3 linked regions of the Homo sapiens genome follow. The protein of the gene in region 3 interacts with the protein of the main gene of each other region in a biochemical or structural test. Each region holds a gene or a part of one and is shown on either strand. Other genes may lie near its edges. The genes, in order: RBBP8, TOP2A and PIAS4.

Region 1 (3,749 bases), on a different chromosome or scaffold from region 3:
CAAACTTTTGCATGTGCTATTCTCTCTACTCAGAAAATTCCCTCCCCTTCCACCATCTTCCTTGCCTGGCTAATTAGACTTAATTATCAAGCCTGGTCTGACATAAACCATGCACAAACCCACTTCCCCATGCAACCACACACACCCTCAGTTCTTCCTTCATGTTTTCAGATAATAACATAGTATACTGCATTAAAATTCTAGACTAGAAATTCCCTTAAAGCTAGCACTATATAGGATTTATTCTTATTCACAAGGTCTGGCACATAGTAAGTGCCCAAAAAACATTTCTTGAACATTTCTTTGTGTCTCCATGAACACTGGGGCTTGAAAGAATACTTTTGGGGTTGTTCATATTTCAAAACTCATTAATTAATAAGGGTGTCACCAGAAGTTTTGCAAGAAACTAAACTTACCATGGGAAAGTTCTTTTTTTTTTTGAGACGGAGTTTCGCTCTTGTTGCCCAGGGTGGAGTGCAATAGCGTGATCTCAGCTCACTGCAACCTCCGCCTCCTGGGTTCAAACGATTCTCCTGGGTTCAAGCGATTCTCCTGCCTCAGCCTTCCTGAGTAGCGGGGATTACAGGTGCGCACCACCACACCCGGCTAATTTTGTATTTTTAGTAGAGACAGGGTTTCTCTATGTTGGTCAGGCTGGTCTCGAACTCCTGACCTCAGGTGATCCGCCCACCTTGGCCTCCCAAAGCACTGGGATTACAGGCGTGAGCCACCGTGCCCAGCCTACCATAAGAAAGTTCTAATACAGACTCACATACTACACTTTAGATTCAGGTTGATTATGTTTTAATAGTACTCCAGTGTAATGATACAGCTATAAAGCACTGCAATATTAAACTTATAATAGGTAATCAAGAAACAAATGTAATATGAAGCATTTCTCATACATAGGGACATAGGGAAAGTTACAGAATTAAAGTATATTAAAATTTAATATTAAAACCTTGAGCTTAGCTTCATATGGTGTATCTTTTAACACAAATAATATTTACTCATCTCAACCACAATTGCTTAATCCTCTAAAACTCCTTGCACGTCATAAAAACCTTTTAACTGTTATTTCACTGTACTGTAATTATCTGTTTACACGACTCTACTAAGACTGCAGGCTGTCTGAAGGTAAGTGGCCATTCACTTTTGTATTTCAGTGCTACGGGTTTGTCAAATGACTTTATGTAGTATTTTTATGTCTATATCCTGCAAAGAATTTTATAGAAGAAAATTAAATTTAGAGGTTAGGTAATTAGGCTAAGATCACAGAGCAAGTGGGTAAATGAAATCAGAATTCAAATGCAGGTCTTCAGTCAACAAATTGTATACGTTTTCCACTATCTCATACATATTACCACAAGTAAATAACAGCAAGTTGTATACAAACTATGTTCTGTGGTTAAAAAGCACCAATTTGACCATAAAAATGAATCACAAAAACTACAATTGTAAATGTCCTCTAAAAATGAGATCTGGCTGGGCGCAGCTCACGCCTGTAATCCTAGCTGTTTGGGAGGCCAAGGCGGGAGATCACCTGAACTCAGGAGTTTGAGACCAGCCTGGGCAACATAGCGAAACCCTGACTCCACAAAAAATACAAAAACTAGCTAGGTGTTCTAAGGTGAAGGATAAGTTTAAAAAAAACAAAAACAAAAACAAACTAGCTGGGCATGGTGCGTGCGCCTGTAGTCCCAACTACTTGGGAGGATGAGGTGGGACAATCACTTGGGCCCGAGAGTTTGACACTATAGTGAGCCATGTTTGCACCACTGCACTCCAGCATGGGTGACAAAGCAAGACCCTGTCTCAAAAAGAAAAAGAAAAAAAGATCAGCTGGGCACAGCAGCGGACACCTGTAATCCTAGCACTTTGGGAGGCTGAGGCCAGTGGACTGCTTGAGCCCAGAAGTTCAAGACCAGCCTGGGCAAAAAGGCAAAACTCTGTCTCTACAAAAAATACATAAAATTAGCTGGGCGTGGTGGTGCACACCTGTAGTCCCAGGTACCCAGGAGGCTAAGGTGGGAGGAACACCTGAGCCTGGGAGGTTAAAGCTGCAGTGAGCTGTGACCATACCACTGCACTCCAGCCTGGGCAACGGAGTGAGAACCTCTCTGAAAATTAATTAGTAAATAAATAAATACATGAATATATAAATAAATAAATAAATAATGAGATCTTTGGGCCAGGCGCAGTGGCTCACGTCTGTAATCCCACCACTTTGGGAGGCAGAGACAGAAGGATCACTTGAGGCCAGGAGTTCAAGACCAGCCTGGGCAACATAGTGAGACCCTGACTCTACAAAAAATAAAAAATTAGCCAGGCATGGCAGCGTGTGCCTATGGTCCCAACTACAGGAGGGAGGCTCACTTGAGAATGGGAGGTTGAAGCTGCAGTGAGCTGTGATCACACCACTACACCCCAGCCTGGTGACACAGTGAGACCCTGTCTCAAAAAAAATAAAAAAAAAAAAAAGATATCTTTGAATTTAAAGATGGCCATTAAATGTACAAAATTCAACAGTGGACTGAATTAAAAAAAAGTATATATACATCATGGAATACAATGAAGCCATAAAAAAGAACAAAATTATTTTCTTTGCAGCAACATGGATGCAGATGAAGCCATTACCCTGAGCAGACAACAGAAATACTGCATGTTCTCATTTATAAGTGGGAGCTACACATTTAGTACACATGGACACAAAGAGGGGAACAACAGGTACTGGGACCTACATGAGGGTGGAGGGTCAGGGGGGTGGGAAGAGGGTGGGGATTGAAAAACTACCTATGGGGTACCATGCTCACTACCTGGGTGATGAAATCATTTGCACACCAAACCCCAGCAACATGCAATCTATCCATGTACCAAATCTGCACATGTACCCCCGGAACCTAAAAGCTGAAATAGAAATAATAAACAGGACTGTCATACAAAGGTATACAAAGCCACTACAGTCTCAACAAAATACTGCTGTAAGTATTTAAGAAAAGATTTTACCTTGTACTTCTCTATCATGACATTCTTTTAGTTTTGTCCAAAGGTCCTTAAAGTCACTAGATGTATCTGCAGAGTTAGGGCTTCCACAGCTGCTTCCCGAGATGTTCATCTTGCTTAATATGCTCCACACTTCTACTTGCTTAATATTTTCTGACCTTTTCTGTTACATTATAGAGGTATCAAGTCGTCTTTGGACAGGTCAAATACCTGAAATGACAGATTGCAACATAAATGAACTTTGCATTTATCTTTATGTACTTTGAAATCAGGATGAAACACAAGCCCAGATATCCTCATTTACCATTTCCTTATTTACCTATAATCAATCATTTTTAGAATTTGGGAGGGGAAGGAAAGAATAAGGAAAGATGATAATGGTGAGAAAAGTTCTGATTTCAGTTATTTGGCTATATGAGGTAAATTTTCAGGCAAATTTTCTTATTTCTCTTAGAGGAAGAAATTATCTCAATTATATTAAACAGAAAGGATTCAGATATTGAGGGGTTTTTATCATTCATGGTCAGTATTAATTTACCACTATAGACTAATGTATTGTTTTGGCTGGGGGAGATGGCTCTTGCCTGTAATCCTAGCTCTTTGGGAGGCTGAGGTGGGCAGATCACTTGAGGCCAGGAGTTTGAGATCAGCCTGGCCACCATGGTGAAACCCCATCTTTACTAAAAATACAAAAATTTGCCAGGTGTGGTAGTGCGTGCCTGTGGCCCCAGCTACTCAGGAGGTTG
Region 2 (3,749 bases), on a different chromosome or scaffold from region 3:
ATAACTGAAATAAGTTTTCAGCATTTTATTTGAGAGCAAGGCAGTTTATGATTGATATTGGTTTTCCTTTTTTTTTTTTTTTTTTTTGATGGAGTTTTGCTCTTATTGCCCAGTCTGGAGTGCAGTGGCATGATCTCGGCTCACCGCAACATCCACCTCCTGGGTTCAAGCAATTCTCCTGCCTCAGCCTCCAGAGTAGCTGGGATTACAGGCGCACACCACCACACCTGGCTAATTTTGTATTTTTTTTAGTAGAGATGGGGTTTCTGCATGTTGGTCAGGCTGGTCTCGAACTCCTGACCTCAAGTGATCTGCCTGCCTTAGCCTCCCAAAGTGCTGGGATTGCTGGGATTACAGGCGTGAGCCACTGCGCCCAGCCTGTTTTTATGTACTTTGTTGAGTGGGAACGAGATGTATAGATGATCCTCTTGAAAGGGGTATAATAGGCATGATGACTCACTCCTGTAATCCCAGCACTTTGGGAGGCCAAGGTGGGAGGATCAGTTGAGCCCAGGAGTAGTTTGAGACCAGCCTGGGCCATATAGTGAGACCCTCATCTCTACAAAAAATTTAAAAATTAGCCAGGTGTGGTGATGGACACCTGTAGTCCCAGCTATTCAGGAGGCTGAAGTGGGAGGATTGCTTGAGCCCAGGAGGTCAAGACTGCAGTAAGCTGTGATCCTGCCATTACACTGCAGCCTGGGTGACAGAGCGAGATGCTGTCTCAAAAAAGGAGTGGGAGTGGTGTATAATAATGTTTCCAGATTGTCCTTTTCTTTCCATTGGGCATAAATCATTTCCCTCTGTTTATCCTAACATTTTAAAATTTTGTATTTTTTCAACATTATCAGTGTCTATTCAGGTGTTGGAAAAGGTTTTTTTTTCCTCTTGACTCCTATTTCAGGAATGTCAGGAACTAAGCATGGTGGGAAATGTTCCTGCTGAATTTCAGAAGGTATATATGAAAAGTGCCAAAAAAATTGAGGGCTGGGTATGGTGGCTCACATCTATAACCCCAACACTTTGAGCAGTTCTCCTGCTTCAGCCTCCCAAGTAGCTGGAATCACAGGCATGCGCTACCATGCCTGGCTAATTTTTTTTATTTTTAGTAGAGACGGTTTCAACATGTTGGCCAGAACTCCTGGCCTCAAGTGATCTGCCCTCCTCAGCCTCCCAAAGTGCTGGGATTACAGGCACAGGCCACCGCGCCCAGCCTGAATATACATATTTTAGAAATAATAGTATTTAAATATTTTTAAATGTTAAGCATTCGTTTAATGTGTTGTAAAATACAATTTTCAATCTTTTTTTCTTAGGGAAAACAATTTAATTAGTATATGGAATAATGGAAAAGGTATTCCTGTTGTTGAACACAAAGTTGAAAAGATGTATGTCCCAGCTCTCATATTTGGACAGCTCCTAACTTCTAGTAACTATGATGATGATGAAAAGAAAGTGACAGGTAGAGTATTGAGGGGAAATAACATATTTGTTGCTAAAAATATATATATTTAAATGACTGTCTGTGGCATGAGGGTTAAAGATATGGAAATAAATCTCTATAATTGAATAGCTCTGCCAGTGATTAAGAAATAAAGCTGTCAATGAGATAGTAACAATAAAATAGTGTTTCATATTTATTTGCCCAGGTGGTCGAAATGGCTATGGAGCCAAATTGTGTAACATATTCAGTACCAAATTTACTGTGGAAACAGCCAGTAGAGAATACAAGAAAATGTTCAAACAGGCAAGTAAATAAGTGTCTTGTACCTTAATGATAAATGGTAGTAGTATAGCCATTTATAATGGCATTAATGATTGGTTTAATTTAACATAATTTATAAGCTATTGAAGTATGGAAAATTATAAGCATATATATTAGGTTATTAGGACTCATAAATTTATGTTATTTACTTCCAGTTTGTGAGATGACTTGAATTTTTCATGTTTCCTATTCTTTACTTCCATAGACATGGATGGATAATATGGGAAGAGCTGGTGAGATGGAACTCAAGCCCTTCAATGGAGAAGATTATACATGTATCACCTTTCAGCCTGATTTGTCTAAGTTTAAAATGCAAAGCCTGGACAAAGATATTGTTGCACTAATGGTCAGAAGAGCATATGATATTGCTGGATCCACCAAAGATGTCAAAGTCTTTCTTAATGGAAATAAACTGCCAGTGAGTATTTTCCTGGATGTTAAGGATAATAAGGGATTTTGTAATCATTGTCAAGTGCAAAATTGAATTTTTTCCCCTCCCATATGTTTTTGTTTGTTTGTTTGTTTGTTTGTTTGAGACAGAGTCTCACACTGTTGCCCGGGCTGGAGTGCAGTGGCACGATCTCGGCTCACCGCAACCTCCACCTCCCAGGTTCACGCAATTCTCCTGCCTCAGCCTCCCAAGTAGCTGGGATTACAGGTGCCTGCCACCACACCTGGCTAATTTTTTGTATTTTTAGTAGAGACAGGTTTCACTATGTTGGCCAGGCTGGTCTCGAACACCAGACCTCATGATCCACCCGTCTTGGCCTCCCAAAGTGCTGGGATTACAGGCATGAGCCACTGCACCTGGCCCAACCATATGTATTTTCTTACCACTTCTCACATATGTTCTTGAAAAGAGAATGGTATGCCACATTTTTTAATCAGCTCATTTTAAACTTACCGAAGGAATTTCTTTCTCAAAGAAACACCTAAAATAAATATTTCATGTCCTTTTTTTATTTTCCTTTTTCTTTCTTTTCTTGATAACCTCGCTGTGTCACCCAGGCTGGAGTACAGTGATGCAATCACGGCTCACTACAGCCTGGACCTCCCAGGCTCAAGCGATCATCCCACCTCAGCTTCTGGAGTAGCTGGAAATGCAGGCAGCACCACCATGCCCAGCTAATTTTTTTTTTTCTTTTTAATAGAGGTGGGGATCTCACTATGTTGCCCAGGGTGGTCTTGAACTCCTGGGCTCAAGTGATCCACCCACCTCGGCCTGTGTCCTTTAATGACCATTCCCTTATGCCTATCAGTGAACATCATTGCATTGGTTTTGGAAAGTCCTCATAGTCTATCATTGAACCTATTTTTTAATAACTTTCTTAATACTGTTACCTTTAATTCCTGTACAGGTAAAAGGATTTCGTAGTTATGTGGACATGTATTTGAAGGACAAGTTGGATGAAACTGGTAACTCCTTGAAAGTAATACATGAACAAGTAAACCACAGGTGGGAAGTGTGTTTAACTATGAGTGAAAAAGGCTTTCAGCAAATTAGCTTTGTCAACAGCATTGCTACATCCAAGGTAATTTTATTCTTAAATTATTAATCATGATTTATCTTTACATATATGTGTTCTTATTGTTTTTAATATATAAAGTGGACTTGAATATTGGGCTAGCTTAGTATAAAGGAGGTTAAATTAGTTTTTAATGTTTGATTATTATAATTTTGAGGATACTGAGTTTTACAGTTTGGTATTTTTCCTTATTAGGGTGGCAGACATGTTGATTATGTAGCTGATCAGATTGTGACTAAACTTGTTGATGTTGTGAAGAAGAAGAACAAGGGTGGTGTTGCAGTAAAAGCACATCAGGTATGTGCTTTTGGCAGTTTTCTTTTTCTAAAGTCAAGGAAGAAGAGAAAGGCTATAAATAAAGCATGAGTACATTTTTAGTGGCTTAATATCAACTTCTATTGCAGGTGAAAAATCACATGTGGATTTTTGTAAATGCCTTAATTGAAAACCCAACCTTT
Region 3 (3,749 bases):
TTAACTCCTCAGTGACCAGAGCCCGCAGTGCTGGGGGCTGTGGGGTCAGGCTTCCTCTCCGAAGGGGTCTCCTGCTGCTTCCCACAGCCGGCCCCAGGCTCAGCCTCTCTGTCACTGGATTTCTTTCTTGCTGCACCTAGGAAGTCCTCACCTTTGCCTCACTTGAACCCTTCCTGCTGCGCACGTCTCTCCATACACAAAGGAGGGAGAGTTTGCTTTAAAATCAGATGGGCACCTGCATCCCCTCCTAGCTGCCCCTTTGCCAGGCTTGAGGGTCCACCCGGGCACCGGGTAGCCAGAGCTGGGATCCAAGGATGGAAACTCAGCTGAGGAGTGAGCGGCTGGGGCAGCCTTGGCTCAAGCAGGGGAGCTGCTGGGAGCCAGCACGTGGCTGCCACCACGTCCCCACGGGAGAAGGAAGAGCCCACTGCTCCACACCCCGGCTGGGGGTCTGGGTGGGGGTCAGGAAGGAGGAAGTGGCTCCCAAGCGGGCAGAGATAAGTGGTGTTTCAGGCCAATAAGGGGTGGTAGGGGCATTTCCAGGCGGAGGAACGTCAGGACAGCTGGGGGGAGTGGGGGGGCAGGCTGGCACCATCACTCTGGACCCCAAGTCACTTGGGCAGGTGGCTTCCTGGAGGAAGCAACACTGGTCCACCAGGCAGCTGAGGGCCAGGTGGTGGATGGAGAGGCCCTGTGGGTTGTGGGCCAGGGTGGCCTGCCCCCCATGGCCCAGGGCTGGGGTCTCTCCTGAGCTACCCATGGATGGAGTTTACCCTGGGATGGAGCCACATCCCAGAAGCCTCAGGAGGGCAGCCAGGGTCCCTGCGTGAGTTTCCTTCTGGCTGTGGGCCTGCTGCCCGTCGAGGGGAGGGCGGCGCCTGCCTCCAAGACTTCATGTTTCACATATGTTTCCCCATGTTCCGTGCAGCTTGCTGGCGGGCACCGTCTTTTCCTTTAAAGAAGCAGCTACACTCCTGTCTGCAGGCTGCCTTGGGGCGGTGCTGGGGCTGGGCGGCAGCCGCTTGCTGGCTCACAGCCAGGAAGCCCCAGGATCCGTCTCCCAAAGAGTCCCTGCCTCATTCCCCGCTGTGGCCTTGGGGATGGTGCTTCGGTGACAGAATGAAGTCACAGCAATGACTCTTTCGGTGGCTGTGTTGCATGAAACTTGCCAGAAAAGTCCCATGGGTCATAGTCCACGCAGGGTGGGGGAGGCCACATAGGCCACCTCCGTGTGGGGGCTTCGGCTGGGTCTGTGCTGTGCCCAGGTTGTGGTCAAATCTAATGGTGGTTGCCACCCGGCTTTCTCCAATCCCTCACGGCCCCGAGCCACACAGCGAAGCTTGGGACTCATCGTCAGGGGCCTGTTCTGGGAGGTGGACGTCAGTGCCGGAGAGAACTCGAATCACAGCCCCGCGCCCTGCTGTTCCCACCCTCCTGACGGTGTCTTCCGTTCCCTCCCCACAGTCAAGGAGAAGCTGCGCCTTGATCCTGACAGCGAGATCGCCACCACCGGTGTGCGGGTGTCCCTCATCTGTCCGGTGAGTCGGGGCGCGGTCCCCTCCTCGAGGCCTCTCCTGCGGCCGGCCTTCCCCCCTGGCGGCCCTGGGCCCGGGGCGGCTTGGCTGGGCCGTGAGCCTGCGGGGGCGAGGCTGGTCTTCGTCCCCTCCGTGTTCCTGAGGCATGAGTGATTGGAGCGAGCCACAGGATGGAGCTGGGGGTGAGGGGCACCGGGCAGGCGGGCACAACAGGAGGGGTGCCCTGCTCACGCAGCCCCTCCCCCACAGCTGGTGAAGATGCGGCTCTCCGTGCCCTGCCGGGCAGAGACCTGTGCCCACCTGCAGTGCTTCGACGCCGTCTTCTACCTGCAGATGAACGAGAAGAAGCCCACCTGGATGTGCCCCGTGTGCGACAAGCCAGCCCCCTACGACCAGCTCATCATCGACGGGTGAGCCCGGGGCCCCGGGGAGGGCGGCCGGAGCCGGACATCCGTGGAGGTCTCGGTGGCACCCCGCTTCCTGCAGACCACATGGTGCCCCAGCAAGACACAGCAGTGGGGGCACATGGTCCTGGAGCTTTGGAAACCCCGGGCTGCGAAAAGAGCCGGTTTCTTTCTCGCGGAACTTCTCAGAGCCTTTGCTATGCAGGTGACAGCCACGTAGCTTAGGTTGCAGAAGGTGGGCTCCGGTCCACCCCGCTCCCACGTGACCTCAGGCAAGTGTGACCCTGAGCTCCAGGAGTGTGGTTTGTGCCACAAAAAACTGAGCCAGGTCGTGCTTTCACACGGCGTTCACCCCAGGACGCGCAGCCTTGGGGGTGACCTCCTCACAGAAAGGCAAAGGAGGTGGCGCCTCCTGGAGCACTCTGGCTACGCCATGCCCTTCCCTTCCTAGGTGGCACAGCTGTGGCCAGGCATTCCCCAGGCCACAGGGGACAGGAGGACAAGACCTTTCTCCCTGGTGGAAGGCTCTGCCCAGGGCTTAAGTTTCCAGAAACTGAGCCCCGTTGTCTGTGGTGCCTGATGCGGCTCCTGCCCGGCGCCGACCGCGCCCACCTCGTCCCCAGAGCCGCCGGCAGGGCGCGAGGCCACAGCGGCACAAGCTGGCGCCCTCACAGGCGGGAGCAGGCCCTGCCTGTGGGGGTGGGCCGGGTCCCCAGCCCTCAGGCATGGCCTCAGCGGACTGTGCAGGTGAAGGCAGGGCTGGCCTGCCTCTGGGGTTGTAGATTTCATCCCCAGGTGGACCTCCGGTTCATGCACTTGTCCCCATCCCAGGAGACAGACCTGTGAGCGTCCTCAGTTTACAGACGAGGAAACAGGCTCAGAGGAGGCAACCAGCAGCTGGAGCTACCCCGGCTCACGGGGCCAGGCTGAGACTTGAACCCAGCCTGAGTCTGGGTCCCCTCTGTGGAGGGCTGGGTGGCCACCCCCTTGCATCCCAGCTTCGGGTAGAGAGAGGAGTCCTTTGGGCCGGGCACGTGGGCTGCCTGAATGGCTGCTCTGTTCCCAGCCTGACAGCTGTGCAGCCGGGTGCCCGCCTTCCCCCACAGGCCCGGAGTGGGGCTTGGGCTTGGGGTGGCGGCAGCTCTCACAGCTCCAGGGCCACCAGGGCTGGGGCAGGCAGCTGTGTCCCATGCAGGCCTTGGCCTCAGCAGCCCATGGGACTCGGTGTAGCCAGGGAGGCTTCCTGGAGGAGGGGTCCTTGGTTCATACTTTGTTCCATGAGCCCTATCACCTCTCTGTCCCTGGCTCTGAGCTGGGTGACCCCAGGGTCCCCAAAAGAGCCCCGTCCCAGACCCTGCCTTCAGAGTCTTGTTCTTGGCCAGGGGAGCGGATAGAGGAGCAGAGCCAGACATAAACGTTCCCGTTGCTGTGTGTGTCTTGGGGAGGAGGAAGAGAAGCTGTGGGGTGGGGCTTTGGAGGGTGAAAAGCAGTTTTGCAAGCAGGGAAGTGGGCAGGCAGGGCTGTGCTACGCCTGGGGCGGCCCTGGCACGGTGGGCTCCGAGCATCGCCTCAGAGAGAGCTCGGCGGGGCGGAGGGGCTGGCCTGGGTGAGAGCCTCAGAAAGGGTGGCCCAGAGTGGGACGAGGGCTCTCCTGTGTGATGAGAACGATGCCACTGCGGGTGCCTGGGAGCAGCTGTAGCCTTGACAGTAACAGGCCAGCCTGGGCCCTGCATGGACCCGTGGGGCAGGGGGCCTCTCCTCAGACGCCCCCCAGCCACTGCACCTTTCCCTTCCTGCGGGTGGGGAGACT

The links.
Region 1: the proteins of PIAS4 (region 3) and RBBP8 form a complex in vitro, tested with the Homo sapiens proteins (one study listed by BioGRID).
Region 2: of the proteins of PIAS4 (region 3) and TOP2A, one has a biochemical effect on the other in vitro, tested with the Homo sapiens proteins (2 studies listed by BioGRID).

The regions. Positions count from the first base shown.
Region 1 is NC_000018.10:22,936,218-22,939,966, reverse strand, and holds part of RBBP8 (DNA endonuclease RBBP8), read right to left. Parts: intron 3,214-3,749; 5' UTR 3,116-3,213; coding exon 3,007-3,115; intron 1-3,006. UniProt on the Homo sapiens protein: Endonuclease that cooperates with the MRE11-RAD50-NBN (MRN) complex in DNA-end resection, the first step of double-strand break (DSB) repair through the homologous recombination (HR) pathway.
Region 2 is NC_000017.11:40,411,193-40,414,941, reverse strand, and holds part of TOP2A (DNA topoisomerase 2-alpha), read left to right. Parts: intron 1-1,316; coding exon 1,317-1,462; intron 1,463-1,649; coding exon 1,650-1,747; intron 1,748-1,970; coding exon 1,971-2,183; intron 2,184-3,123; coding exon 3,124-3,297; intron 3,298-3,486; coding exon 3,487-3,588; intron 3,589-3,695; coding exon 3,696-3,749. UniProt on the Homo sapiens protein: Key decatenating enzyme that alters DNA topology by binding to two double-stranded DNA molecules, generating a double-stranded break in one of the strands, passing the intact strand through the broken strand, and religating the broken strand.
Region 3 is NC_000019.10:4,031,636-4,035,384, forward strand, and holds part of PIAS4 (E3 SUMO-protein ligase PIAS4), read left to right. Parts: intron 1-1,464; coding exon 1,465-1,538; intron 1,539-1,784; coding exon 1,785-1,945; intron 1,946-3,749.